Homo sapiens: one gene and its partner. The protein of the gene in region 2 interacts with the protein of the main gene of each other region in a biochemical or structural test. Each region holds a gene or a part of one and is shown on either strand. Other genes may lie near its edges. The genes, in order: RACGAP1 and ECT2.

Region 1 (15,681 bases), on a different chromosome or scaffold from region 2:
ATTAATATAATAATTTTGCCAGTTTATTCCTTGTGGGCTTTGAAGACCTACAATGTAACTTAAAATATCTATTTTTAATTTCATTTTTAGCTAATGCCCCTGTTGCAACTGCCTTTTAAAATGCAGGACATGGTCAGCACATTTCCTACCAAAAGCACAGATGACGTCACATGAGTGATTAAGTGGGAAAATCGCCAGCTCAGCAGCACAAGAATTATTTCTGTAATACAGGGCTCTCTGCTGGGCTGCGTGCAGGAACTACGTCTAATAAATTTATACTAAGTAGAGGCAAAGGATTATGTTGTACCACATTCTGGCATCAGAGAGACAATACAGCACCTTCACAGTTCGAAGGGCAAAGCAAAAATCATTTGCTACTGTGTCCTGTATAGTGAATTTCAGACTTTGTATTTCCCCTCAAAGGCCTGCTGATACTATAGAAAAAACAGTGTCGTTACAGGCGGTTCTATTCCAAATAGACTTTAACTGGGAACACTTTGAGGAAATAAGATCTTCACTTAACAGTCAAGAAAGAAAGACATTAACTGGATGTTATGAAAACTATCAAGGAAATGAAATAAAAAGTCAAATTTTATTAGAAATTTAATGTCCTCAGAAATACCATTAAAGGATTCTTGTGTTTCTCTTAACCAATGCTTCAACATTCTAGTCCAGGTCCTTATTTCCTAAATAAAATTTTAAGAACTCTTATGAAGGGTTAGTGATTTTGCAATGTTTACAAGATTGCACCACAAGCTATGAGAGCAAGAAAAAATATATAAAAAAGCACAAAGGACAAAGAATATATGAACATAGGCTGGGCACGGCAGCTCACGCCTGTAATCCCAGCACTTTGGGAGGCCCAGGCGGGCGGATCACTTGAGGTCAGGAGTTCGAGACTAGCCTGAGCCAACATGGCAAAACCCCGTCTCTTCTAAAAACACAAAAATTAGCTGGGCACAGTTATGTGTGCCTGTAATTCCAGCTACTTGGGAGGCTGAGGCAGGAGGATCGCTTGAACCTGGGAGGCAGAGGTTGTAGTAAGCTAAGATGGTGCCACTGCACTCCAGTCTGGGTGCCAGAGTAAGACTCTGTCTCAAAAAAAAAAAAAAAAGAATATATAAACATGAAGATATTTTATATATTAAATGCTGCAGAATTATACATTTATACTCATATGATAATTGCTATAATAGAAAAAAAGTTCTCAGTTCCAAGCCTGGATGCAACATATACCTGAATCAGGGCCGGAAACCAAGATTTTCAAACGGCAAGTATCTGTTCCAAGCTACATAATCACAGCAAGCTGCTAAGCAACCAGACCAACAAATTTATTACAAAGATCTTTCTCTAAACTAAGAACAAAACTAAAAGGATAGCATTAAAACCGGCAGGAAGAGCTGTGGAATTCATGGAGATGCCATGGATTTAACATATAATGAAATAGGCAACATACCCTAAGTGCTACAGGACAGAAACAGGGGCAGGACATTGGGTAGTCAATTCAAATGTTGATTTCCTTTGGCTCTCCTGAGGTAAAAATGGAAGACTCTAATCAGTAGTTTTAATATAAGGTATTACTTTCTATCATCTCGGCATTCACTTATATATCGTGAGACTATAAGACAGCTCAATACCACGGCAAAACTTCTATCTGTCCAAGAATTCAAAAAGGAAAATTTCATGGTGCTAGGATGTTGAAAACTGGTTGTTTAAAAAAAAGCTTTTTTAGGGGGGGTTTTAAGTCTTAAATTACAATATAACCTGTTCTCTTGTCCATTTTTTTTTTTTTAATTTTTTGAGACAGAATCTTGCTCTGTCCCCCAGGCCAGAGTCCACTGGCGCCACCTCAGCTGACTGCAACCTCTGCTTCCCAGGTTCAAGTGATTCTCCGGCCTCAGCCTCCTGACACTGTTCTACTCTTCCTGTTCATGTCCATCAACTACGCTACTCACTGACCTACCCTATCCCATACCCTACTGACTTCCAATTTTGATTTCCCTATTTTTATCATTCTCTCAGTCGCTCAGTTCCAAACTTCAGAATCACCTCTGGTTCCTCCCCTTCCCACAGCATAATCACTAAACCTTGTGTACTCTTCTCTCATGTATCTACCATACCCACCCCCTTATCACTTGCAGGTTGTCACCACTCACTTCAATTGCACTCCCTTCCTCCAGTCCTTCCCCTACTGCTTCAGGCAGTTGCCACTCAGATACAAACTCTTTGCACTTGAATTAAACTTTACCATATGATTCTGCCCTGTGTCCCAGCTAGAATATAAATTTGAGGGGAGAAACCTTACATGCGGCACTACTATATTACACACACAAGCATGTAGCATTTAATATGATGCTCACAAAAAAAAATTGATAAGTGTTAATTCAGAGAACAAACACACACATATCTGTGATGCTATGGTCAAAAGAATTTCCATTCTACCTCAACATCAACGTGTAATATAGTTTAAAGCAAAAAGAACAGTTAAAAGCGGGAGAGGGAGCAGAAGTCCTGGGACAAGATGGGTGTGGTGGTGCGTGCCTGTAGTCCCAGCTATTCAGGAGGCTGAAGTGGGAGGATCACTTGAGTCTAGGAGTTTGAGACCACCCTGATCATCACAAGACCCCCTTCTCTTAAAATAAATAAATAAATAAATAAATAAATAAAAAGGTCCTGGGACAAACCTTTAGCTCTTCTATCTACCAGTAGTATAATCTTCAGTAAATCACTTAAATTCCATGACTCATCTATAAAGTGAAAACAATAACACTTGCTCTATTTACCTCATAGAATATTACAAAAATTTTAAAATGTATAAGTTTACAATCTCACTACCAAAATATAAGGTATCTTTTAGTTGGTATGAAGTGAGTTTCTTTTGTTTAGGTTTGGTTTTGGTCTGATAGTTGTTACTTCCATCCTAAAACAGTGATTCTCAAATCTAGGTGTTTTCCCCCCTAGGCTGTCTCCAAATAAGGATATCAGTAAATTCAGAATTTTAGACCATTTTTAAAAATAATACTATACAATTAGAAAGAAAAGAATCCAGTATTTACTAGGTGCTTTGAAATGATTCGGGCACTAAACTAGACACTTCACGTACACTTTTTCTTTAAGTGAATTTGACTTTTTTTCTGAGACGGTGTCTTGCTCTGTCACCCAGGCTGGAGTGCAGTAGCACCATCTCGGTTCACCGCAACTTCCATTTTCAGGGTTCGAGTGATTCTCCTGCCTCAGCCTCCCGAGTAGCTGGGATTACAGGTGCCCACCACCAGGCCCAGCTAATTTTTTTTTTTGTATTTTTAGTAGAGATGGAGTTTCACCAAGTTGGTCAGGCTGGTCTCGAACTCCTGACCTCTAGCAATCTGCTTGCCTCGGCCTCCCAAAGTGCTGGGATTACAGGCGTGAGCCACCATGCCTGGCCTCACTAACTTAATTATCTCCATTTTACAGACAATGGGCAACTAAGTCCAGAAACCTTAAATTAACCAATAAATGTCGAGTTCTCATTGAAACCCAGGTCTGAGTCCAAAATCTATATTCTCTCCAACCCAACACATTGAAGAGATAAGTTACAAAAATATCAATTAGACCATATATGTTGCAGACCTACTCAGAGACCTCCTGCAAACCATAACATGTCATACAAACAGCAACACATATAAAACACAAATTATAGCTGGAACCCAGACCAAGAAGAATCAAGGAAACAGCAAAATTTGGCCAGGTCTAGGCTTTTAAACAAGCTGTTCTAGATGAGGTTTGCTGCTTCTGAAGAGTTATTTTTTCCTCTAACATAGATTTACTTAGGGTAATCCAAAAATGGCACTAGCAGAATATAATCCTCTTCTCTTTATATGCTAGGGGACCATATATTTTTATTAACATTCTACAGAAGTGACTCTCAGGAATTATTTATAGATGACAAAAATATCTTTCTATATCAGTACTAACTCTGATATCTCAGCCAAATTGTAACTCAAAAAGCTAAAATTTACTCACCCTATTCAACGTCAATTGAAAATAGTTGTAATTTTCCTGCTGGGTCACATTTTCACCCTCATGAATACTTGTTTATTTCCCCCCATGTATTATTTAGTCCATAGCTAGGAGATACACTAATGTGAAAGGAAACAAAAACAAAGTCATATTGTAGTACATTGCTTTTGCAGCTGTAAAACAGCTGTCACTTTCCACAACAGAGACTGCTGCCTTTTCGGGAAAGCTGAAACGATCCCTGCGTGCAGCAAGAAACTCAGTTTGTGGAGCACTTTAAACCAAAAGGTGCTAGAGAATCTCAGCTGTTATTGATGGGGAACCCCAGAGGTGGAGAAGTCAGTATGTTACAGATTCCCAATCTGTGAGTATCCCTAAGGGAGCAATCTGGAAACACCATGAAAGAGTCTCAGCTGGATGTGATTGCTTTGAGCCCCCAATTTAATTTCAATCACCCAGCCAAGAGGTAGATATCATCCTTCAGAAAAACAGACTATTACAGATCTTACTGCAGGGTATCCTGGGAAAAGTCTCTATCCTCTTCTTCCTCCTCCTTCAAACAACATTATTAAGAGACCTATATATCAGGTTTTTTAGATGCATCAAGGGTGTTAAATACTTTAAGACAAAGCAATGAAAGGTTGCTGGAGTTTTTCAGGAAAGTGTTTTAATGAAAAACTTTCCCACAAACATTGCTAAATCTGGAGATTTCCAAGAAATCAACAATATAGATTCCCTGCTGTCAAGGAAAACCATTCTCAAAGATAATCTCAGTACTTTAAGATCCTTTCATAGGAACACATTTGAGGACAATGTGAGGACAATTCTTTTCCTGAAATGTCCAGCTTCTGCTTCACTGTATCGAAAGTCTCTAATACAACTGGCGGACAGAAGGATTATCTTGAAACCAAATGTTCTTTATAAGCAAATCACTTGCAGAGAGTAAACAAAATGTTCTCAATCCAACATGAAGACTAAAATAAGGAAGGGAAGATTTGAATTGTGATTTTTCAGAAAATTACTAGAAGTTCAGCATACTGAATACCTCTTTTTTTCCCTGTGAATTCTTCCTATTCTGGTCTTCCATCCTTCAAGGTCTAGAATAAGTCTCACCAATTCACTGAAGCCTTCCCTAACCATTTCAGTCCAAAATGATTTCCTTTATTATCTATAACATTCATTTAGCAGATACAAAAATACTGTTTATTATTAATCTTCTATGTTCAAAAAGTTAACAGTAAAACAGGCTAGGTGTGGTGGCTCACGCCTGTAATCCCAGCACTTTGGGAGGCTGAAGCAGGTGGATGACCTTAGGTCGGCAGTTTGAGACCAGCCTGATCAACATGGAGAAACCCTGTCTCTACTAAAAATACAAAATTAGCCAGGCATGACGGTGCATGCCTGTAATCCCAGCTCCTCAGGAGGCTGAGGCAGGAGAATCGCTTGAACCCGAGAGGCAGAGGTTGCAGTGACCCAAGATGGCGCCATTGCACTCCAGCCCGGGCAACAAGAGTGAAACTCTGTCTCAAAAAAAAACAAAACGAAAACAAAAACAAAAAATTAATAGCAAAACAAAAATCTCACTATCCTAAACAACTATATGTACCATCTGATCTAATCTTTGCCCATTTTACACTCTTATTTCATGGTGTTACAATCATACATTACATATAATTTTGTGTTTTGCTTCTATCATGTTTCCATTAAGTTCTAAAGAGTTGATGAACAACTATTTAACTATTCTCTTCTTTGGACGTTTAGGTCATTTCCAGTTTTTCACTTACCTCTGCCTGGAATCTCTTGCATGGTCACTCTCTCACCTCAAATATCTTTACTCAAATGCTGCTTTCTCAGTGAGGTCTTTCCAACCATCCTATTGTAAACTGCAGCCTTTCTCTAACATTACCCTGCTTTACTTTGTTCCAAAGCACTTCTCTCCATCTAACATACTTACATATTTATTCAGTTTATTGTCTGTTTCTCCTCTAGCTTAAGTTCCAAGAAAGCGGAGATTTTTGTGTTTTCTTCCCTGATGCCTAGAACAGTACCTGACATTTGGTAAATGACTAATAAATATTTGGTGAATAAATGAATTGAGCATTCCTATGGACAATATTTTTCTTCAGGTGACTGTTTTCCTTAGACTAGATTTCCAAGGCTAGGAGTGCTATATTAGGGTGTAAAAACATTTTATGGCTCTTAATAGTGCCAAAAAGTTTTCTAAAAGGGATGTACTAATGCACAGTACTTTCAACAGTGTATAGGCTTACCAGACTCACCAGTTATCTTTTTAAGTTCTGTTACCCCAAATTAACTGCACATTCTTTAAGACCAAATAAGACTGTCTTCTACTTACACTTTGCACTTAAGAAATACCTATTGAATGAAAGTAAACAGGCCAGGCATGGTGGCTGACGCCTCTAATCCCATCATTTTGAGAGGCCAAGGCAGTCTGATCACTTGAGGCCAGAAGTTCAAGACCAGCCTGGCCAACATGGTGAAACCGTATCTCTATTAAAAATAAAAAATTAGCCAGGCATGGTGGTGCACACCTGTAATTCCAGCTACTCCGGAGGCTGAGGCAGAAGAATCATTTGAACCCGGGAGGCAGAGTTTGCAGTGAGCCAAGATCGCACCACTGCACTTCAGCCTGGACCACAGAGCAAGACTCCTTCTCAAAAAAGAAAAAGAAAAAGAAAAAAAAAGTAAACTAGTACAACCTTTATGGAAAACAGTATGGAGACTTCTCAAAGAACTAAAAATGGAACTACCATTCAATCCAGCAATCCCACTAATGGGTATAAGGGTAAGAAATCAGTATATCGGCCGGGCGTGGTGGCTCATGCCTGTAATCCCAGCACTTTGGGAGGCCGAGGTGGGCAGATCAGGAGGTCAGTAGATCAAGACCATCCTGGCTAAAACGGTGAAACCCCGTCTCTACTAAAAATACAAAAAATTAGCCGGGCGTGGTGACGGGCCCCTATAGTCCCAGCTACTCGGGAGGCTGAGGCAGGAGAATGGCGTGAATCCGGGAGGCGGAGCTTGCAGTGAGCCGAGATCGCGCCACTGCACTCCAGCCTGGGCGACACAGCGAGACTCCGTCTCAAAAAAAAAAAAGAAATCAGTATATCAAAAAGACCCCTGCATTGATATATTTATCACAGCAGAATTTACAGTAGCAAAGATACGGTATCAACCTAAGTGTTCATCAACGAAGGATTGGATAAAGAAAATGTAATATATAGACAGACATACACCACAGAATACTACTCAGCCATAAAAAAGAATGAAATCACGTCTTTTGCAGCAACATGGATAGAACTGGAGGCCATTATCCTCAGTGAAATAACTCAGAATGTCAAATACCGCATGTTCTCACTTATAAGTGAAAGCTAATCAATGGGTACACAGACATACAGAGTGGAATAATACACACTGGAGAATACAAAAGATGGGAAGGTGGAGGGGGCTGAGGGTTGAAAAACTACGTATTGGGTACAATGTTCACTATTTGAGTGATGGGGACACTAAGAGACCAGACCTCACCACGACGCGATATATGCATGTAAGAAATCTGCACTTGTACCCCCTAAATATACAAAAATTTTTTTAAGTCCCCTCCAAAAGATAAATACTTATTGAATGATTAAGCTACAGGAAAGGCGCCTTCTCTAAACACCTACAATAACTCGGAAAGCTTATTTACCCGACACATTAGAAAGATAATGCTTTCTTAAAAAAAAAAAGGGCTTATCTACCCACCTACCCCCACTTTCCGACACACACCTCTCGGCCTACGGATGAAATCCTGTGAAGAGAAATGTACGTGAAAGTGTACAAGTAAGGCCTCGTTGTTACTGAGGGTAAGAATCAGGATGAGAAGGACAAGATGTCATTGCCTTGCCTTGCCTCCCTAGACATACGAGACCCACGAAGTAGAGGGGCTCCACTGCAGGCCGCCCGGGCCTCTCAAACACCAGGGCTCTTCCCTTCGAAAACGATGGGGTGTCACTCCAACCACTCTTAAACTCGTATCTGACTGAGAGACTCTTGTTTAGGATGACTCCTGCCCTGGTCCAGCCACCACCTCAAAAAGACGCCCCCGGCTTTCCACAAAACCCGGCGCCAAGACAGAAGCCCCCGACCCTCCCAGGCCGCGTCCATTCGACCTGCCACGACCCCCACCCCAGAAAAGCCCGAGTGGAGAGGCTGTGGCTGCCAGCCTGTCCCGCTGTCCCGCTGTCCCGGACCCCCGCGGCGGCCACGGCTCACCACACGAACACTCTGCTTCCTATCACAATCCAGCGGCAGACGCACCTGGTCTGGCACCCCCACTACTCACTTCAGTCAGCCTGGCCCCACCTGGGCCACCCTTCACTTCGCTCCGCGCCTCACCCAACGGCAGAGCAGCGCCGCGCCCACAGCTCCGGTTTGAAAACCTTCACCAACCAATCACAGAGAAATTTATTCCTCCCGCGCCGTCCCTCTACGGTGTGACGTACGCGTCAGGGCCACGCGGAGGTGACGGGAACGGGAATGAGCATGCGCATTCTGACAAAGCGAAGCCAAAGGTGGCCATTTTGACTAATGTCAACGGTTTTTCGGTTTTTTTTGTTTTTTTTTGCGGTGCCCTTTCCGGAAGTCATTCAGGATGCCATATTGACTAAGGGCAAGTGGTACTTCCTGAATGCGAATTATTCTTGGTCTCACTGTCTGCGGGACTAGGGCCCTTGGAAACGATTAACTGAACAATGTCAGCTCTCACAGTAGAATCAGAAGAATACCAGGAGTTAGAACAGCAGTTAGTTTCAAGCACATTCACTGAGCTATATTATCCCTTCCATTGATGTATCCATTCAGACTTTTATTTGACACACATTGAATGAGCCCACATCATCACAAGCACTCCACTGGGAATCGGAAAAATAAAGATGGTATGGTCTCTACTGTCCAGTAGCTACGAATGGAGGCGATAGCTCTAGAAAACAAAAATAAATACAAAATGAAAATAAAATACTATAATTCCATTTAATAAACGTTATTTAGAACTTGGCATTGTGCTAGCACAGGAGCTTTCATGCTTTTTAAAAACTCTGGACCCACAGTGAGAAATACATTTTACGTTGCAACCGGGTAATGAAAACTCTGCTCATCCTTACTACATGCAAAGTACCCAGAACTCACTACTCAACAACGCATGGCTACCCGCAATTTGGAAAAATACTGGCTGGAGCATACAAGAAGCGCTGTGGTTTAAAGGAAAGATCACTTACTGTCACATTGGTCCTTAATTTAAAAAAAAAAAAAGAAAAGAAAGATCACAGATTTGGGGGAGGGAGATTAGGGAGATGTTGGTCAAGAGATATAAAATTTCAGTTAGAGGAAAATTTAGATCTATTGTACAACACAGTGACTGTAGTTAATAACAAAGTATAATGCATTTGAAAATTGCTAAGAGTAGATCTTAAATGCTCTCACCACACACCTCAATAAAGTATGTGAGGTAATGGATATATTAATTCGCTTGATTTAGTCATTCCACAGTGTATACATACATCAAAACATCACCATAAATATATAAAATTGTATTTTATCCAAAAATCACATCACAAATTTTGTAACCCGAAAATTTGACTCCACTTTTATTTTAGAGACAGGGTCTTACTCTGTCACGCAGGCTGGAGTGCAGTGGCACAATTATAGCTCACTGCAAATATGAACTCCTACACTCAAGGGATCCTCCCTCATACCTAGGACTACAGGCACATGATCAAGGTAATTCTTTTGCTTGTTTGTTTATCTTTTGTAGAGAAGGGTCTCACTATGTTGTCCAGGCTAGTCTTGAACTCCTGGCCTTAGGTGATCCTCCCACCTGAGCCTCCCAAAGCACTGGGATTACAGACAGTAGCACTCCACCTGGCCTTGAACAATAGCAGGCGTTCGGCTGACCCACCCATATTATCACTTTTTAATACTTCTGTACTTCACTTCCTCCAAGTATAATGTAGAAATAATAATCCCATCTCTATCTCACAGGTTTATTCCCAGATCGACTGAGACACAGTGTGGTACACTATCAAAGTTTATACTTGGTAAACTGCAATACAGATTATTATTAATATTATTAAGAAAGGGATGAAGAAAGAAAATATGAACTGTGCATTTGTTATCCCATTTAATCCTCCTAACAACCTTTCAAGGTCAGGAGCATTCATTGATTGCATTAGCCTGTGCCTGCTTAGATACCTATAATAAAATGAAATAAGTAGTAGGACAAAGACATGTATAAAGTACTTTAGGAGCACAGACAAGGAAGCAATTAATCCTATCTGGGGAGTGGGAGTGTTAAAAAAGCCTGCAGAGACTGATCTGAGCTGGGTCTTGTGTGAATAGGAATTTACAGGAGAGAAGGGAATGGAAAATTACTGGCAATAGGAAGATCATGTGACCTCTGAAGAATGAGGCAAGCATATATTTAATAAATACACAAGGCCAGGCACAGTGGCTCATGCCTGTAATCCCAGCACTTTGGGAAGCCGAGGCGGGTGGATCGTGAGGTCAGGAGTTCGAGACCAGCCTGGCCAACATAGTGAAACCGCATCTCTACTAAAAATACAAAAATTAGCCAGGCGTGGTGGCAGACGCCTGTAATCCCAGCTACTCGGGAGGCTGAGGCAAGAGAATCGCTTGAACCCGGGAGGCAGAGGTTGTGGTGAGCCGAGATCATGCCACTGCACTCCAGCCAGGGCAACAGGGCGTGACTCCATCTCAAATCAATCAATCAATCAATCAATCAATACACGAGAAAGCGTTTATGAAGGTTTAGGCTGTGAAGGAACATTTACCTCAACTTTCAGGTGATGTTGGGGGTTAAGTGAGTGTGATGCTTCTTGAGTAGCTTTGGCCTGAGAAGGAAAAGGAGAGACTGGCAAAGTAGGATGAGACCACACTAGGAACGGATTGGACTTGATCCTGTAACGGACTCAATGACAAGACAATGGGACTTGGACTGACTTGACTGATTTGTCTTTGGATAGAACATATGCTAACATGGCAAGCAGGATTGTCTGGAAAGGGAAAAATGTAAAGGTAGACTCTCTATTTAGGCCAGTGGCAGTGGGATGACAAGGAGGGGACAGGTGGGAAAGATATTTATGAAATCAATCAATGAAATGAAATGGACTTATTAAATGATTGGACCTCAGGGGTGAGGGAGAGAAGCAGGGGAGTGTAGAATGCCTCAGCTTTCTCTCTTTCCCTTACACCTCAATTACTGAGTGAAACTCCTAAGTACAGATCTCTTGTGTGTGCCCACTTTTCTCCTTCCCCCTGTCACTACCCTTGTCCAATCTGGTAGTCCAACCCCAGTGAAACTGTTTGCCCTCCCTTGCATTCTTTACTCCTCAAGTGATCTTTTAAAAATGCAATTATGGCTGGGCGAGGTGGCTTACGCCTGTAATCCCAGCCCTTTGGGAGGCCGAGGCCTGTGGATCTCTTGAGATCAGGAGTTCGAGACCAGCCTGGCCAACATGGTGAAAACCCGTCTCTACTAAAAATGCGAAAAAAATTAGCCAAGTGTGCTGGTGGATGCCTGTAATCCCAGCTACTTGGGAGGCTGAGGCAGGAGAATTGGTCGAACCTGGGAGGCACAGGTCGCGGTGAGCTGAGATCATGCCATTGCACCCCAGCCTGGGTGACAGAGAAAGACTCTGTCTCAAAAAAATAAAAATAAAAATGCAATTATGGCCGGGCACAGTGGCTCACACTTGTAATCTCAGCACTTTGGGAGGCCAGGGCAGGCAGATCACCTGAGGTCAGGAGTTCAAGACCAGCCTGGCCAACATGGTGAAACCCTGTCTCTACTAACAACACAAAAGTTAGGCCGGGCACAGTGGCTCATGCCTGTATTCCCAGCACTTTGGGAGGCCGAGGTGGGCAGATCACGAGGTCAAGAGATCGAGACCATCTTGGCCAACATGGTGAAACCCTGTCTCTACTAAAATACAAAAAATTAGCCAGGCGTGGCGGCGTGCGCCTGTAGTCCCAGCTACTCAGGAGGCTGAGGCAGGAGAATGGCTTGAACCTGGGAGGCAGAGGTTGCAGTGACCCGAGATCGCGCCACTGCACTCCAGCCTGGGCGACAAAGTGAGACTCCATCTCAAAAAAAAAAAAAAAAAAATTAGCTGGGCATGGTGGTCTGCACGCCTATAGTCCCAGCTACTCAGGAGGCTGAGGCAGAAAAATCACTTGAACCCGGCAGGCAGAGGTTGCAGTGAGCTGAGATCGCGCCACTGCACACCAGCCTGGCAACAGAGCAAGACTCCATCTCAAAAACAAACAAACAAACAAACAAACAAACAAAAAACAGCAGCCGGGCATGGTGGTGTGTGCTTGTAATCCCAGCTACTCGAGAGGCTGAGTCAGGAGAATCGCTCTTGAACCCGGGAGACGGAGGTTGCAGTGAACCGAGATTGTGCCACTGCCCTCCAGCCTGGGTGACAGTGCGAGTCTCTGTCTCAAAAAATAAAATTTAATTTAATTAAAAAAAAATTTGAGGGCTGGGCACGGTGGCTCACGCCTGTAATCCCAGAACTTTGGGAGGCCGAGGTGGGCAGATCACGAGGTCAGGAGATCATGACCATCCTGGTTAACATGGTGAAACCCCATCTCTACTAAAAATACAAAAAATTAGCTGGGCGTGGTGGCGGGCGCCTGTAGTCCCAGCTACTCGGGAGGCTGAGGCAGGAGAATTGCTTGAACCTGGGAAGTGGAGGTTGCAGTGAGCTGAGATTGCGCCACTGCACTCCAGCCTGGGCAACAGAGCGAGACTCCGTCTCAAAAAAAATAAATAAATAAAAATTAAAATGCAATTCTACTACAGAAATGATGACTATGTGAAGTGATGCATAGCTTAATTAATGAGCTAGATTTGGCCAGACAAGCTGTGGCTCATGCCTGTAATCCCAGTGCTTTGGGAGGCTGAGACGACAGGATCACTGGAGGCCCGGAGTTCAAGACCATCCTGGGGAATATATCGAGACCTCCTCTCTACAAAAAACTGAAAAATTAGGCTCCTGTGCCTATGGAGTAGCCACTCATTTATTCCTTTACTTTCTTAACAAACTTGCTTTCATTTAAAACAAACAAACTAGCTGAATGTAGTGGGCTTGGCTAGTCCAGCTACTTGCAAGCCTGAGGCAGGAGGATCACTTGAGCCCAGGGGTTCAAGGCTGCAGTGAGCTATGATTGCACCACTGCACTCCAGCCTGAGTGACAGAGCAAGACCTTGTCTCAAAAAAAAAAAAAAAAAAGCAGCTATATTTAATCATTCCATAATATATGTACAGTCTGAGAGCACGTGGTAGCTCACACCTGTAATCCCAGCACTTTGGGAGGCTGAGAAGGGTGGATCACTTGAGGCCAGGAGTTTGAAAACAGCCTGCCCAACATGGTGAAGCCCTGTCTCTACTAAAAAATACAAAAATCAGTCGGGCGTCGTGGCACATGCCTATAATCCCAGCTACTCAGGAGGCTGAGGCAGGAGAATTGCTTGAACTCAGAAGGCAGAGGTTGCAGTAACCCGCGATTGCGCCACTGCACTCCAGACTGGGCGACAGAGTGAAACTCTGTCTCAGAAACAAAACAAAACAAAAACCATAATATATATACATTATACTTCAAAACATCATGTTGTACATGATAAATATGTTCAATTTTATGTCTTTTGTGTGTGTGTGTGTGTGAGACGGAGTTTTGCTCTTTCACCCAGGCTGGAGTGCAATGGCGTGATCTCGGCCCACTGCAACCTCCGCCTCCCAGTTTCAAGAGATTCTCCTGCCTCAGCCTCCAGAGTAGCTGGGATTACAGGCGCCCACCACCATGCCTGGCTACTTTTTGTATTTTTAGTAGAGATGGGGTTTCACCATGTTGGCCAGGCTGGTCTCAAACTGGTGACCTCAGGTGATCCATCTGCCTTGGTCTCCCAAAGTGCTAGGATTACAGACGCCACCGCGCCCGGCCAATTTTTAAAAATAAACTTGAAAAAAAATGTTAAAGTAAAAATGTGATTCTAATCATATATCTCCCTTGCTTAAAATCCTTAATGACTTCAACTTGCCTTCTAATAAAGACTAAAATTCTGCCGTGCGCGGTGGCTCACACCTGTAATCCCAGCACTTTGGGAGGCTGAGGCAGGCGGATCATTTGAGGTCAGGAGTTCAAGACCAGCCTGGCCAACATGGTGAAACCCCGTCTCTACTAAAAATACAAAAAAATTAGCCGGCCATTGTGGTGTGTGCCTGTAATCCCAGCTACTCAGGAGACTGAGGCAGGAGAATTGCTTGAACCTGGGAGGTGGAGGCTGCAGTGAGCCGAGATTGCACCACTGAACTCCAGCCTGGGCAACAGAGCAAGACTCCATCTCAAAAAAAAAAAAAAAAAAAAAAGACCAAAATCCTTTACAAGGCCCTCCTAGGCTGCTTTTGCTCGCCCTTCTAGCTGCACTGCCCAACCCTCGTTTGCAGTTCCTCCACGCACCTGGCTACCATTTCCACCTGGGGCCTTCAACCTTCCCTGTGCGCCAGCACTCTCCGGAACTTCCCGAACTTCCAGTGCCTCTTCACCAGGATAAGTTCTACTCACCCTCTAGACAGTTTAAACTTAAACGCTGATGCCTGGGTCCGTGCCTTTGGCATAAACTCCCGCAGCACTGTGTTCTCTCCCTTTCATACTCCTGATTTGTTTAGGCTTCCTGGTTCTTCCAGTCACTGTTACACGGCCTTTCACAGGTCAGCTGTGGCTTGACTTGCTCATCTATAAATGGAAATAATAATAATAATAATACTGCACTTTGGGAGGCCAAGGAGGGTGGATCACAAGGTCAGGAGTTCAAGACCAGCCTGGCCAACATGATGAAACCCCATCGCTACTAAAAATACAAAAATTAGCCTGGTGTGGTGGCACGTGCCTGTAGTCCCAGCTACTTGGGAGGCTGAGGCAGGAGAATTGCTTAACCTGGGAGGCAGAGGTTGCAGTGAGCCAAGATTGTGTCACAGCACTCCAGCCTGGGTGACACAGCGAGACTCTGTCTCAAAAATAAATAATAATAATAATAATAATAGTTATTTCCTAGGGTTGTCGAGAGGAATAAATGAGTTATCCTTATAAAACACTTAGCACAGTTCCTGGCCCACTGTAAACACTCTGCAATGCCTATTTTCCCTACTAGACTATGAACTTCCAGAGAAGAAGGGATGGTACTCCTTCCATGTACTAGTCTTGCTTTTGCAGCTCCAATAAATAGCTGTGTAATGGAGGTGAGTTAAGTTCAATAGGACGGTGTCCCAAATAATGGATGGGGGTTGGAGATGCTGTCTCTCTTACACCTGCCTCTACCCAAAATACCACCCACCCTTCCAATTCCTCTCAATCTCCTTCCCTGCTGCACCCGCCCCAGCGAGAAGGCAGCAAAGGAAAAGGTGAGTGTGTGTGTGTGTGTGTGTGTGTGTGTGTGAAGCGGGGTGGCGTGGGGGCGCGGGTTCCTAACTCCCTTTCTTCCCAAACTGTAGCTTCCAGAGTAGGGAGGGATCCTGGGGCTGCACTTGTAACCGGAGAAGCTTGAGAGCTTTGAGAGCTGGTGCCAGAAAGCTTGGGTTCGATTCCCCGCTCTGCCACCTAGGAGAGGTG
Region 2 (14,975 bases):
AGTGCAGTGGCGCGATCTCAGCTCACTGCAAGCTCCGCCTCCCAGGTTCACGCCATTCTCCTGCCTCAGCCTCCCGAGTAGCTGGGACTACAGGCGCGTGCCACCATGCCCGACTATTTTTTTTTTTTGTATTTTTAGTAGAGACGGGGTTTCACTGTGTTAGCCATGATGGTCTCGATCTCCTGATCTCGTGACCCGCCCGCCTCGGCCTCCCAAAGTGCTGGGATTACAGGCGTGAGCCACCGCGCCCAGCCTATAGTTGATATATATGTATTTATAATGTGATCACAATGACAAGTTCATTGTATATATCCTATACAAGCTTTAAACAGGTTTTGTCCCGTTGACATATGAATTCAATAATTATAATACTTCCAGCGAAGGGACCTGGAGGAGAGGCTAACATTTAACATAAGGAATCTTGGCTAGGATCTGTGTTGGAAGGGCACAGAAGACTGGCCAAGGGCCACAGCAAGCAGTCCACATCTTCCAGACAGGAGGAGACAGCTTAGGTGCAGCAAGGTTTCCCTGACAAACAAGAGGGTTTAGTAAGAATGTCTGAATCAAAAAAAAAAAAAAAAAAAAGAGGACTATTAGATTTGGTATAGAAGAAGGAACTGTGCCTCCTGGTGAGAAAAGAATTCAATGGTGGGTCAGGTGCGGTGGCTCATGCCTCTTATCCCAGCACTTTGGGAGGCCGAGGCGGGCGGATCACAAGGTCAGCTGTTTGAAATCACCCTTGCCAACATGGTGAAATCCCGTCTCTACTAAAAATACAAAAAAAAAAAAAAAAAAAAAAATTAGCTGGGCGTGGTGGCAGGTGCCTGTAGTCCCAGCTACTCAGGAGGCTGAGGCAGGAGAATCGCTTGAACCTGGGAGGCAGAGGTTGCAGTGAGCCGAGATCTTGCCACTGCATTTCAGCCTGGGTGACAGAGTGAGACTCCATCTCAAAAAAAAAAAAAGAATTTGATGGTGGTCTTTCCTGTGGCAGCCTTGGTGTTGTGGGGGCAGGTGTTGTGGATAGGGTAGGGTGGGGAGAGAGGAACAGCAGCACAGGTGCCATTGCTCCTGCGGTCAGGGGTGGGAAGGCAGCATAGAGAGCCACCATTTCCATCAGGCAATTACAGGTCAGCTGAGATAACATAGTAGTAAGAGTAGCAGCAACCATAATAGTAGCAGAAATAATGGTACTATTAACAGCTAACATCTATTGAATATTTACTATGTGCTAAAATGTTTCAATTATCTATATTAATTCCTTCAATTCTCATAACAATACTTTGAGATAAGTACTATCATATCCTTTTACAGAAGACCAAACTGAGGTATAGGGATGTAAAATAACTTGCTTAAGGTCACATGGCTAGGAAATGGAAAAGCCGGGTCGAAACCCAGGGAGTCGGGTTCCCTATTCTAAAGCTATAGAGCCTCTCAAGCAGACAGGGGAAGCCTATTGTAGAGAAGTGTTCGGGGACCCCAAGGTGTGAAATCTCTGCAAAGTGATGGTGGCCCAAGGAGAAGAGGCCCACTTGGGAATGACAGCGTGTGAGTCAAAGTGTCTGTACCTGGTAGTTGCACTGCAGAAGGGGCTGGCTAAGACAAAAAACCAGGGAAACGAAGAAGTATTGGGGAGCTGTTCAGGCTAAGAGACTAGGAGTGGGAAGCTCTTCAGTTCATGTCTGCACAGAGAGAAGTAAACAGTGTTGGTAGCTACTTTGAGGCAATTTGCATAAGCAATCTTGGAAAACTGACTTGGAAGAAATCAGGTTTCAGCAATTAAGCTATGGGGATTTAAGAGTGAAACATTAGCTCACGTTATTTTAAGCCACATTCCTTGAATATTACCCCCTGTTATACTTTGGATATTTGACACGCCAAACCTCATGTTGAATTGATCTCCAGTGTTAGAGGTGGCACTAATGGGAGGTGTTTGAGTTATGGAGGAGATCTCCCATGAATGGCTTGGTGCTGTTCTGGGAGTAATGAATGAGTTCTAGCTCTGTTAGTTCCTGCAAGAATTGGTTGTTTATAAGAGTCCAAGCCAGGTGTGGTGGCTCATGCCTGTAGTCCCAGCTGCTCAGGACTCTGAGGCAGGTGAGCCCGGAGTTTGAGGTTACAGTGAGCTATGATTAGCATTCCAGTCTGAACAACAGAGTGAGACCTTGTTTCTAAAAATGAGAGTATGGCCTCTGGCACCTCCATCCTCTCACTCTTGCCTCCTCTGTCACCATGTGATGCCTCTGCACAAAACAGCTCCCCTTCCATTTCCACCATGCGTGGAGGCTTCCAAAGGCCTCACCAGAAGCAGAGGCTGGCACTGTGTACAGCCTGCAGAACCATGAGCCATGAGGCCAGGAATGGTGGCTTACGCCTGTAATCCCAGCACCTTGGGAGGCTGAGGTGGGGAGATCACTTGAGGTCAGGAGTTCGAGACCAGCCTGGGCAACATGGTAAAACACTGTCTCTACTAAAAATATAAACATTAGCCAGGAGTGGTGGCATGTGCCTGTAATCTTAGCTACTAGGACGGCTGAGACAGGAGAATCACTTAAACCCGGCAAATGGAGGTTGCAGTGAGTCAAGATCACACCACTGCACTCCAGCCTGGATGACAGAGTGAGACTCCATCTTAAAAAAAAAAATTGTTTTAGAGTGGGATCTCACTCTGTCACCTAGGCTGGAGTGCAGTGGTGCAATCATGGCTCACTGCAGCCTTGAACTCCTGGGCTCAAGTGATCCTCCCACTTCAGCCTCCTGAGTAGCTGAGATTACAGGCACATGCCAGTATGGCCAGCTAGGTATCCCTTTATAGCAATGAAATGGGCTAAGATACCCCATAATCATGGGGAAAGAGTTATCACATATTTTTAGGAAACATAGGGTTAGCCAGGTGTGATGGCTTATGCCTTGTAATTCCAGTGACTCAGGAGGCTGAGGTGGGAGGATTGCTTGAGCCCAGAAGTTCGAGACTAGTGTGGGCCAAACAGCGAGACACCATCTCTTGAAATTAAAAAAAAAAAAAAATTAGGTGGGTATGGTGGCACACACCTATAGTCCCAGCTACTCGGGAGGTTCAAGTGGGAGGATTGCTTAAGCCCAGGAGTTCCCAAGAGTTTGAGACTGCAGTGAGCTATAATGGTGCCACTGCCCTCTAGCTTGAGTGACAGAGCAAACTCCATCTCACCTCAAAAAAAAAAAAAAAAAAAGAGCAAGAGAAACACATAGGGTTAGAAAGCATGTTCTAATATTTAGTATGCAGATAATTTATTCCAATTTATACACAAAACCGTAACCAAGTTAATAAGTAGAAATATGCAGTAATAAGTCAACATGAACTTACTGACCTATTTTGATATCATGAACAATTGATAAAGCAACAGTAACAAGTAGAGAAGGAGTATTCATGGCTGCTAATTTACCGATGGAAAAAAAAGATGCAGAAACCCCAGCCAGCCTCTGACATGAAATAAGATATGGACAGAAATCAAACTACTAAAAAATCTGGTTATTTTCCCTTCTTTCCTCTTTTCCATAATTTTTTTTTTTTTGAGATGGGGTCGTGCTCTGCTGCCCAGGCTAGAGTGTAGTGGCTTGATCTCAGCTCACTGCAACCTCTGCCTCCTGGGCTCAAGAGACCTTCCCACCCCATCCCCCCACTCTGAGCAGCTGGGACCACAGAAGTGCATCACTATGCCCAGCTAATTTTTTGTAGTTTTGGTAGTGATGGGGTTTCTCCATGTTGCCACAGGCTGGTCTCAAACTCCTGAGCTCAAATGATCCGCCCACCTCAGCCCCCAAAGTACTGGGATTACAGGGGTGAGCCACCGTGCCCAGCCTCCATAGATATTTTTTGAGAGCACAAGTGCCAGGGTACAAAGATGGAAAGGATATGGTTCTTTTCCCTATTCTTGAGTAGCTCATATTTTAATAGAGGAGACAGCCATGTTAACCAATATTTCCAATACAAGGTGACAGGAGCCATACTGAGGTATAAACAGTATTAAGCTCATACAAATCAGAAGAAGCAGTTTACTCTCCATGGGATAGTCAAAGAAGGCTTCATTGAGGTGATGCTTGAGTGGGGTCCTGAATGAATAGGAATTTTCATGCAGACAGAGGGAGGCAGGGCAGGTGGAAAAGAATATTCAAAGGTAGGGATTTAGGAAATCGCCTGGAATGTTTGTGGACTGACGAAAAGTTCAGTATGGCTGAACACAGGGTGCGTATGTGGTAGGGATGAGGGTGATAGAAAATTAGGTTACAGTCATCTTGGGAAGTCCATCTTATACTGGACTTTATTCTGTGAGCAGTGAAGAAACCATGTCTTTTGGTTTAGTTTTGTTTTTAAGGAGGGGGATACATAGTCATATTTAGTTTTCTAAATGAAGATAATTCTGTGACTGATGACTGGAAGTAGAGAGAGTGATTAGTTCCCAAAAGACCAACTAGAAGGCTGTCCTTGTCATAGTTTGGATGAGAGATAATGAAGGCCTAAACTCGGGCAGTGGACTGAAGGGGGAAGATTCAGATTCTAGAAATATTTTTCAGGTCAAATTGGGAGAATGGTGTTGGGGTTGGTGGTGCAGGGAGACCAAGAGGAGGAAGGGAACAGGAAGATGACTTTGAGAGATCCAACTTGGGAGTCAGAGTGAATGGGGATTCTACTAATCAGGAGAGAAATACAAGAGGCAGAGGAGATAAAGGATGGAGAGCTGGGGAAAAGAAGAATTCACTTTAGCACATGAAGAGTTTGATAGGATTGTGGGTCACAGGAGCAGAAAAAATTGGTAAACAACTGGCATTATAGAGTGGGTTTCAACAAGGTCTGGCAAGAAAGAGAGACGTGGAAGCATATGCATATAACTTAAATCCCTGGGAATGAATGAGTTCACCTAGGGAAAGGGGGTTGCCTGAGAATAATACTTTGGGGAACAATAATATCTAAGCAAAGGAAACCGAGAAGGAAACATCAGAGAGGCAGGAAGAGAAGTAAGACAGTGAAAGTGGTGGTCTTTCAGCAGCTGAATTAATGACCATGGGTTAGAAAGGGGTGCTATCATTAGGGGGAACTGAAGGCTAAATATCCTTGATTCATGTGTGAAAGGGATTAAGAGATGGGAAGAAAATTTCGTAATCAGAATGGAATGTTTGAAGTTAACATTTGAGAGCTAAAGCAATTGAGTGTAAAACATTTAGGATATTGTCCATCAAAATAAGTGTTGAATTGAGGTTTTGGGATTCAAAAATTCAAGGAACTGTGAATCTAATTGGCTGGTTCATCAAAGGAAGAAAGACAGAGAACTAGTCTTCTGAATTTGGAAACTGTTCTATTTATTTAATGATACTGCTATTTATCAGAAATTTATATGGATGTAGTAATTTTTACATATTTTGATTCCACTCTCATCCTCTATATTTAATCAAAGTCCCAGTAATTTTTCCTATTCCTTATCTCTCCAACCCATCTTTTCTATCTTAGTTCAGACTATCATTTCCTATGAGTTTGAATTCAACCATATTCTCACTGGTCTTTCTTCTATTTCATTCTTCTATTTCAAGTGAAGTTGTGTTGTGTTCCCAGATTGCTACTTTTTTTTTTTTTTTTTTTTGAGACGGAGTCTCGCTCTGTTGCCCAGGCTGGAGTGCAGTCGCGTGATCTCGGCTCACTGCAAGCTCCGCCTCCTGGGTTGAAGTGATTCTCCTGCCTCAGCCTCTGGAGTAGCTGGGCCTACAGGTGCGCACCACCACGCCCGGCTAACTTTTGTAGTTTTCTTAGAGACGGGGTTTCACCATATTGGCCAGGGTGGTCTCGAACTCCTGACCTCAGGTGATCCGCCCGTCTTGGGCTCCCAAAGTGCTGGGATTACAGATGTCAGCCACTGTGTCTGGTCCTGATCGCTACTTTTAAAAAATAACACAGACCATATAATTTCCTTGCTTCAAGGTTTTTAATTGATCTTCAGTGCTTTCAGCATAAAGTTTAAACTCTGTCATGACAGTGGAGCTCTTCCCAAGCTCCTTCTAACATGGCATTTATTTTACTTTTTATTTTTTATTTTTTGAGATGAAGTCTCGCTCTGTCGCCCAAGCTGGAGTGCAGTGGCGCAATCTCTGCTCACTGCAAGCTCCGCCTCCCGGGTTCACGCCATTCTCCTGCCTCGGCCTCCCGAGTAGCTGGGACTACAGGCGCGTGCCACCACGCCCGGCTAATTTTTTTGTATTTTTAGTAGAGACAGGATTTCACCATGTTAGCCAGGATGGTCTCGATCTCCTGACCTCGTGATCCGCCCGCCTGGGCCTTCCAAAGGCATGTAATCTCATGCCTGGGATTACAGGCATGAGCCACTGCACCTGGCCAGCATTTATTTTTTTTTGAGATGGGGGCTGGATGGTGGGGGGGAGGGGCGGTCTTGCTCTATCGCCCAGGATGGAGTGCAGTCACTACCTAGGCTGGTCTTGAACTCCCGGCTTCAAGGGATCCTCCTGCCTTAGTCTCCCAAAGTGCTGGAATTATAGGCATGAGCCCCCACACCTAGCCTAACCTAGCGTATGTCAGTTGTCTTCCACTGTCCTCTTCATGTATATTATGATCCAGCCACACCAAACTGTTTACTGTCTCCTATATATATTGAGCTTTTATGAGAGCCTAAAGTGCACGTAAACAAGCTAATATTAAGAATTTATGTTTTTAAAAAAGTTCAAGGTTAATATGCCATTCAGTTCAATTGCCTATGCCGTATATAGTATTTAAAAATTTTTCATAATGCTGATCTTGAAACACTATAGCACTTGAAACAGCTTCTGACTCAGTAAGACTAAGTTACTTGTATCATTGTTTTGTAGGTATTTGAATTCTGTGAAAACCTATGCATGCAATAAATTTTTCACCGCAAATACAGCTATCTGCTAGAAGTGCCATGAGAACAAGGCCCATATTTGTCTTGTCACACCTATATTCTCAGTGCTAGCATAGTACCTAATGGGTGCTTAATAGTTATTAAATGAATAAACTATGATTAGGTTAATCAGGACATCCAGTCTCTCAAACATTATGAATGAACTTGGATCTAGCTCATTCACTCTCGAAATATTTATTTGGTACCTACATGTGAAGATTCCTGTGTTTATTAGAGAGCAATGTGTAACATTTGCCTTTGCAGTACTAGCTTTTTGAAAATACCTGAAGATGAGGGATCATGTTTTACTTTACCAGACACCAGCCCTCTGCTAGGTGCAATTAAGTGGCATATGATCACCTATGCACACGATTATCTGAAATACTCCTCTCCACATTGCTTTCTTTGAGCCTGCAGACAGATCTATACTAGACTTTATTTACACTCATCTATTATTTCTGGGTTCTAATGCGGGCTAAAATATTTATTAGGAGACACTGGGTAAGTTACTTAAACCTTTCCTACAGTTTCATGGTATCATGGGACTATGATACCTACTTGTGGGTTGTTTTAAGGATTAAATAAGGTATAAAGTGCATAGTAAAGTATCAGTATGTTCATTCTCTTTCTTCTCTCCCTTATACTGTAATTATCTGTTTATCTGCTAATTTCCCTCACCAGATTGTGTGGTCCAGACAGGCAGTTTTCTATGCCTTATTCATCTTTATAACCCCAACAAGCACAATGGCTGTCTTAAAATTAGTAAATATTTGCTGAGTAAATGAAGACCTAAGAGAGTGAAAAAGGTTGTATTACCCGTTTATTTGTTAATCTAACTGCCACACATCCCTTAAAAGAAATCAAGTACAGCTTTTGTTAGGGAAGCTTAAAATTCATGGCAATGATACCATACACAGTTAATCATTAGCTTTGGAAAGTCTGTTGAGCAGAAAGCGGTGCACAAAGGAAGTAGGGCTGCTTCCCACAATAGCTTAATATGTTTTCAGTGATGAACGTTTTTGGAATGCTGGGCACACCCGACTTCCAAATACGCAAGCACATTCCAAATGGAAATTTCAATTACTGTTTTTCTTTTTTTCTGCCGTAACAGTTATCACAGCATTTTAATGAAGGTCAGACTTAAATACTGACAAGCAGGGAAACCAATAATTACCAGATTGCTTCATTCATTTTGTGGACAGCATTATAAACTTTTCAGGCATTCTAAGATTGCCTGACAAAATTAGAAAAAATTGTTAAGTCCCCACAACCTGCTTGAGATGCTCACAAGTGTTCCATCCCAAAGTACACGTTTGCCTCTTCTTATTGGTATTTAGGTTCTGGCATCTGATTCCCCTTTCTTCTTCTATTTATATTAGCCTTCAGGTGGGAACTATGGAAAACCCACCTGGTGGGGGTGTATTTTTCTTAAGAGATTGTGTTATATGGTATCATATTTAGAAAATAAAGAAATTATTTTCATAATAGCAACGCTAATCACAGGAAAAACTTGATACATTCTTGACTAGACTTTAGGGGAAAGTACAAGTTCTTAGTGGGCGGAGGGGGGCAAAGACGAAGCAATTTGGCTCCAAAAATTCTAGAATCTCGTGGCATATTTTTATCAAATTCAAGCTTATCTTTAAAAAAATCCGAGAATTTTTCTAATTTCTAAGAATTGATTCTAACCCGCGATACTCCCTAGATGGGAGCGCAGTGCTTTAAATAATAGCATTTAAATAAGCGGCTGCTGATTTGAAGTCCACCTGGGGAGTCCGAGTTCTAGGACCGGTCCTTGGCCCTGCCACACGCCAATACAACCATCAAAGTCAAAATCCCTTAACTCAAATTTAAATACATTCCTAAAGCAGAAAGCATCCCGATAGGAAAATCCTACAGCTCACAGCAAGCAGCAGGGAAACATTTATCTCTGGCGGCACTGATTTAAGCTTAAAAGATTTGGTATCGTTTAAAAAAAAAAAAAAGCTGGGTGGGGCCGAGGAGAATCCACCCAAACTTTCCTCAGGAAGTAGGATGTTTACTGAGTAAATATGCGGTAGTCACAGAAACACCTGCTACTCCTTTAAGACCTCAGGAGCCACCACCGCCACCTCCTGGCCACATCCGGGCACTTCTCTGCAAACTCCTGGCGTCCCGACGCCCGAGTCGTTGGGCTTATTTGAAACACACGCACAACCAATCAAGCGGCGCCTGCCGGGACTTGGAGAGCGTCGACCAATCACCGCCCCTCTGGAGACTCCTGCCTATGGGAAAGAGGTTGACATCACGCGCCAATCGGCATGGCTCTTAGAGAGAGCAGCTTAGTTTTTGAATCGGTTGTGGCGGCCGCCGGCGAGGAATGGCGGTATTTGTGAGAGGAGTCGGCGTTTGAAGAGGTGGAACTCCTAGGGCTTTTTTGAGAGTGGTAAGGACTCTGTGTGAGTGAGAGAGGTGCAAGTGGGCGAGCGGCTCCAGAGCCAAGGGCTCTTTTGCCTGCGGTCGACGTCCCCGCCCCTAGTGACCGCGAATTCCGGAGCGCCCCAGCTCAGGCTTCCCGGATCCGGGAACTCCCTCGCCGCACCCCACCCCCAGCAGCCGGGCCCTGACGCGGAGTGGGAGACCGAAGCCCCCAGTATTGCTGGGCATCTTCGCCCTCACCTGTTGGCTCTTTTGGACAGAAGAGTGTGGGTGAAGGGAGGGAGTTGGGAAAGGGATTTTGGCAAGCCGCGCAGCCCTGTGGCTTTGGGGGCCGGCACTTGCAGCCTTTGGGGGCTTATCTCAGAGTGCGCCGTGGTTTTATTCTAGGATTCATCCTGGCTTCTTTGCGGGAAGTTTAATTTTTCGTTTTTGCAAGATAAATCCAGGCCATCCGCCCCTCGTCCTCCCCAGCCACCCGGCACAGATGTGTCCGGCTTAGTGGTTAAAGGCGCAGCCTCTGGATTTAGCCGGGCTTTGAATACCTCTTTTACCCCTTACTAACAGTTTGACTTAGGGGAAGTTGCTTAACCTCTCTGTTCCTACGTTTCTTCATCCATACATTGAAAATAATAATAGTACCTGCCTCTTAGGATTACTGCAGAGATTAAAAGGTTTAGGACAATGTCTGCCACGTATTAAGCGTTAAGTAAATGTCAGTTGTTAATAGTAATGTTATTGTTAATAACACCACCATTATATCTTGGATTGCATTTTAGTCCTTCACCTTGGAAGATGATTGCCTAAAAAGTATTTAAGTAAAAGGAAACTTGAATGTTTGTTTACATGGCAAATTTTATCTCTGGGATAAAAGGGGGCATGTGTTATAGTGTGTTTAGTTAGAAGCTCCTTGGGTCTGTTCTTGGGTGAGAAGCTGTGTAGGTTTATGAACACTGATCCTATTGTGCTTATTTTAAAGGCTTCTGGAATACAGTAATTTGAAAAAAAGTGATTAATATATTTCCATTTCTAATCTGACTGTTGGATGTTAGTTATGTCATCAAGTTACCGTAGTGCATCTCTTTTTCTCTATACATTTTGAAGCTGTTTTGGCAATAAATTGATCATATACAGTATCATCAGGGGCAATTTTAATTATTAATCATCTGCTTTCGATCATCTGCTATGCTCCCTCCCTTTTATTAATCATCTGCTTTTGATCATTTGCTGTGCTCCCTCTTAAAGAGGGAGGCATAGGAGAAAAATGTAAATATTTTCAAGAAGTTTTTTTTTTTTTTTTAGACGGAGTCTACCTCTTGTTACCTAGACTGGAGTGCAGTGGCACGATCTCGGCTCACTGCAACCTCTGCCTCCCGGGTTCAAGCGATTCTCCTGCCTCAGCCTCCTGAGTAGCTGGGATTACAGGTGCCTGCCACCAAGCCCAGCTAATTTTTGTATTTTTAGTAGAGACGGGGTTTCATTGTGTTGGCCAGGCTGGTCTCGAACTCCTGACCTCGTGATCCGCCCGCCTTGGCCTCCCAAAGTGCTAGGATTACAAGTGTGAGCCACCGCGTCCGGCCTTTCAAATGGTATTTTTGATTTTCCTCTTCCAGTCCTTAAAGCAGGTTAGCTCATCTCCTGACTTTTTTTTTTTTTTAAACATTCTTTTAAGGGGACTTTGAATGAAAGCCACTTTAATGCCTTTTCATTGGAAATGGTTGAGTGTAGAAGACTTAAAATAATAGGGCTGGATAGAATTTATCATTGATTCTAAATTAAGGCTGTTACAACTATTGGACCGCTCCTTTGGAGAGCCTTAGAATAATGATTGACATGGATGTATGGTAAAGCCATAAGAAATATCCATATTGTGAATATTACATGAGAATAGTTGTTTGTTGTTCACTTTAAGACATCTATTCAGTTTTCATCTTAACTAGATTTGAGTTGTAGTACTATGTGTGTTCCACCAATGTGGAAACTGAGGTTTAACTGACTATGTGCAGGGCTGAGACAGGAAGCTGAGTTGCCTGATTTTGAAGTGTCACATAACAGCATACAGTTTAAACTGTTACTTTGCTAAGACTCTGGAGGAAGGTATTTGTATATTTTATTAATCTGAAGAAGTAGGAAAGGGGAAAGTCTGACATGTAGCTCTCGTTAAAGGTGGGTCCTCTGTATATTTGCCTAATATTTAGAAATTTACTCTCAGTAAAGTTGACTTATTGAAAATTGATAAAAAAATCTCTAAAAAAATTTTTTTAGAGAGACAGGGTCTTGCTCTGTCACCTAGACTGACTGGAGTGCAGTGGTGGGATCACAGCTCACTACAACCTCAAACTCCTGGATTCAAGTGATTCGCCCACCTCAGCCTCTTGAGTAGCTACTATAGGCACCTGCCACCCACACCTGGCTAATTTTTAAATTTTTTGTAGAGATGGGGTCTTGCTATGTTGCCCAGTCTGGTGTTGAAGTCCTGCCCTCAAGTGATCCTCCTGCCTTGGCCTCCCAAAGTGCTGGGATTTCAGATGTGAGCCCCCAACCCACCCTGATGAAAACTTGTTAAACCTTTTATTCCCTGTCTAGCTTTTAAACTCTTCTTAAGTCCTGGAAAACTTAAAAAAGGATTTTCTTTCATAGTCCAGAGTTATATTGGCACTCACCCATGCATAATTGTTTTGTCAAACCTTTTAGGGGAGAGGTGTTTTTAAAGAATTATGAAAATACTGACAAGGGACCAGCCCAATTATACCGGAGAGGTTTAGAGACATCCACAGAGGATGAGTCAAGAGTGTTGGATTGGGGGTTGGAAGACAAGATAGGTGGAGAGTCGAGCACTAAATGCAAATAGATGTGATGTAAATTATGATTTGTGCCTGAAAAATAGCTGAGAAATTCATTGTTGCTGTTGCATAGATTGTATAGGGACTGGGGTAGTTACAGATGGTGAGGGTGAATAGTTAGGCGGGGACCAAATTGTGAACTTGGTGGTGAATTTGGACTTGGACATATAAGGAGTACTCATGGAAGTTGTTAAGCAGGGAAGTGATATGGTCACATTTGTATTTAGGTGCATATTCCTGAAAACCATGTGGAGAGTGATTTCTAAGGAAACTGATGGTAAAGTTGTGTGGAGCTGGTTTATTAGACCAAGTGACCATTGTGTCATTGAACGTATAGAGAAGGGGGGCCAGATTCCAGAGATACTTGAGGTGGGATTGATAGGAATTTTGGGGAGGGAAATGTGGGAGAGGAAAAAATTAGGATAGATCTCAGATTTTTGGCTAGGATTTTTGTGGGAGGTGTGTTATGGTGGTGTTATAATTGAATATAGGAAGAGAAATTGGTTGAGGGCAAAGGTGTGGAGAAGGGAGGTAGAATAATATTTATGACTACAGTTGAGTGTTTGTTGTATGTCTAGTAATGTTCTATGTGCTTTTGATACATTGTTATTTTTATTATATTCCTGTGAGTCAGGTATTAGTATGTTTATTTTACAGAAAAAGAAACTGAGGCTCAGAGAAGGTCAGTGACTTTCTTTGGTTCATTAAAAAAATGGGTAATAATACTTTTTATAAATTCTAGGTAAAAAGAGCCTCTAATACTTACTTTTGCCCAATGACCATGTTTATGTATTTTTATTCAAATTTTATTTTTTCAGCTGATTTAGAAGAATACAAATCATGGCTGAAAATAGTGTATTAACATCCACTACTGGGAGGACTAGCTTGGCAGACTCTTCCATTTTTGATTCTAAAGTTACTGAGATTTCCAAGGAAAACTTACTTATTGGATCTACTTCATATGTAGAAGGTAAACCTGTTACCTGCTTTAAAACAATCAATTTCTATTTTAATTCTAAACTTATTAGTGACTTTCTTAAGATTTAATTTTAATACCAACTGTAATGCTAGAGCACAGGTATTAAGTAAATATTTGTTTACAGAATCCTTTTACACTATGTCATTTTTCTGATTATTATTTGGGTTATTTGTATGCTTTGCAGCTTTGAAAAGGGAGGCATCTTAATTTGGATATTCCTTTTTCTGTATGTGAGGGCGGTCTAGCTACAGCATTATTAGCTAGAAGTTATACAGTCATGACTGGTTAGGTGAAAGCTACTTTTTCCTTTACCACTTTATAAATGGGTTTTTCCTAAAATTATATGCACTGTTGAGGAGGATGACTATGTAAGATAGCGCATTCTCTGGCTAGGAGGAATGCTGATGTTTGTATACCCTGCTACAATATGGTTTCTCTTTCTCTAAAGTGATATATAGCCAGATATTTTTGTAATAAGTTGGGAGTTGAGTCCTATTAAATTTAGAGAAAGTTATGATTCCCTCAAAGATGTAATACATACTAGATATAGCCAAAAGAGCGATAAGGACCTACTGATTGTGATGTTAATACATGATAAACATTGAAACATTTTACATTTTAACAGAAGAGATGCCTCAGATTGAAACAAGAGTGATATTGGTTCAAGAAGCTGGAAAACAAGAAGAACTTATAAAAGCCTTAAAGGTACGGAGTTTTAGGTTTTAGTTTTTTTTGTAATGCAATTTTTCTTCCATCAGTGTGTAAATAGTTTCATAGCTTTCTTAACCTCATACTTAAGTCTCTTTTCCACAGACTATTAAAATAATGGAAGTCCCTGTTATAAAGATAAAAGAAAGTTGTCCTGGAAAATCGGATGAAAAATTAATAAAAAGTGTTATTAATATGGTAGGTCAAAGTAACTCATTGCATGTGGCATGCTGCACTTCCCTTGATTGTATTATTCTACTTTCTGGTGATTGGAATTAGGCACAAGGTGTATTGTGTGCAATCTGAAGCTTAATGAATAGAAACTGTTTTATACTTTTTAACTCCTTAGCTTCTTTTTTCTCATTCATTTTATATTTAGTCTAAATTCTTGCTGTATTTCCAAAATTATAAATCACGGTAATTTATAATCAGGGAATTTGCCTCAGCATACGAAATAATCTAATTCTGGAATCCAGCTGTTTTAGTTTGCTAGGGCTGCCATAACAAAATACCACATAGTTAATTGCTTAAACAGTAGAAATTTCTTTTCTCACAGTTCTGGAGGCTAGAAGTCCAAGATTAAGGTGTGTGTAGGTTTAGTTTCTCTTGAGGCCTCTCGCCTTGGCTTGCAGTGTCCTTTTGCTGTCCTCACATGGCCTTTCTTCTGTGTGTCCTTGCATCCCTGGTGTTTCCTCTTATTGGGACACCAGGTTGGATTAGGGCCCACCCCTATTATCTCATTTAACCTTAATTACCTCTTTAAAGTCCTTATCGCCAAATATAGTCACACTCTAAGGACTTCATTCTTCATTCTAGGTTAGGGCTTCAACATGAATTTTGGGGGTACATAATTTAGCACATCACACTAGCCTTGCAAATAAAATTCAAATAATTTACTGACCCATTTTGAGTTAAAAAAAAATTTTTTTTTTAATTTAACACGAGTTACAAGAGTTATATAGGTACTTTAGTATCTTCATTATTTTTCGTGGATGTATAAAGTGTTTACTGTAAGTAACTTGCCTTTTTATATCCTACATTTGCCATGCTGCAACTGCTACATATTGCACATCTTTCTCATATATCTTACATATCTGCTAAAATGATTATGCTGATTTTCCTTTCTGTAAGTAT

What was found.
Region 1: the proteins of ECT2 (region 2) and RACGAP1 form a complex in vitro, tested with the Homo sapiens proteins (3 studies listed by BioGRID and IntAct, with this or other methods).

The regions. Positions count from the first base shown.
Region 1 is NC_000012.12:50,017,060-50,032,740, forward strand, and holds the start of RACGAP1 (rac GTPase-activating protein 1), read right to left. Parts: upstream 8,436-15,681; 5' UTR 8,339-8,435; exon of another isoform or gene 8,269-8,338; intron 4,119-8,268; exon of another isoform or gene 4,003-4,118; intron 2,748-4,002; exon of another isoform or gene 2,685-2,747; intron 1,531-2,684; exon of another isoform or gene 1,493-1,530; coding exon of another isoform or gene 1,457-1,492; intron 1-1,456.
Region 2 is NC_000003.12:172,741,537-172,756,511, forward strand, and holds the start of ECT2 (protein ECT2), read left to right. Parts: upstream 1-9,189; 5' UTR 9,190-9,321; intron 9,322-9,465; exon of another isoform or gene 9,466-9,580; intron 9,581-10,613; exon of another isoform or gene 10,614-10,936; intron 10,937-12,972; 5' UTR 12,973-12,994; coding exon 12,995-13,124; intron 13,125-13,758; coding exon 13,759-13,838; intron 13,839-13,946; coding exon 13,947-14,039; intron 14,040-14,975. UniProt on the Homo sapiens protein: Guanine nucleotide exchange factor (GEF) that catalyzes the exchange of GDP for GTP. Promotes guanine nucleotide exchange on the Rho family members of small GTPases, like RHOA, RHOC, RAC1 and CDC42.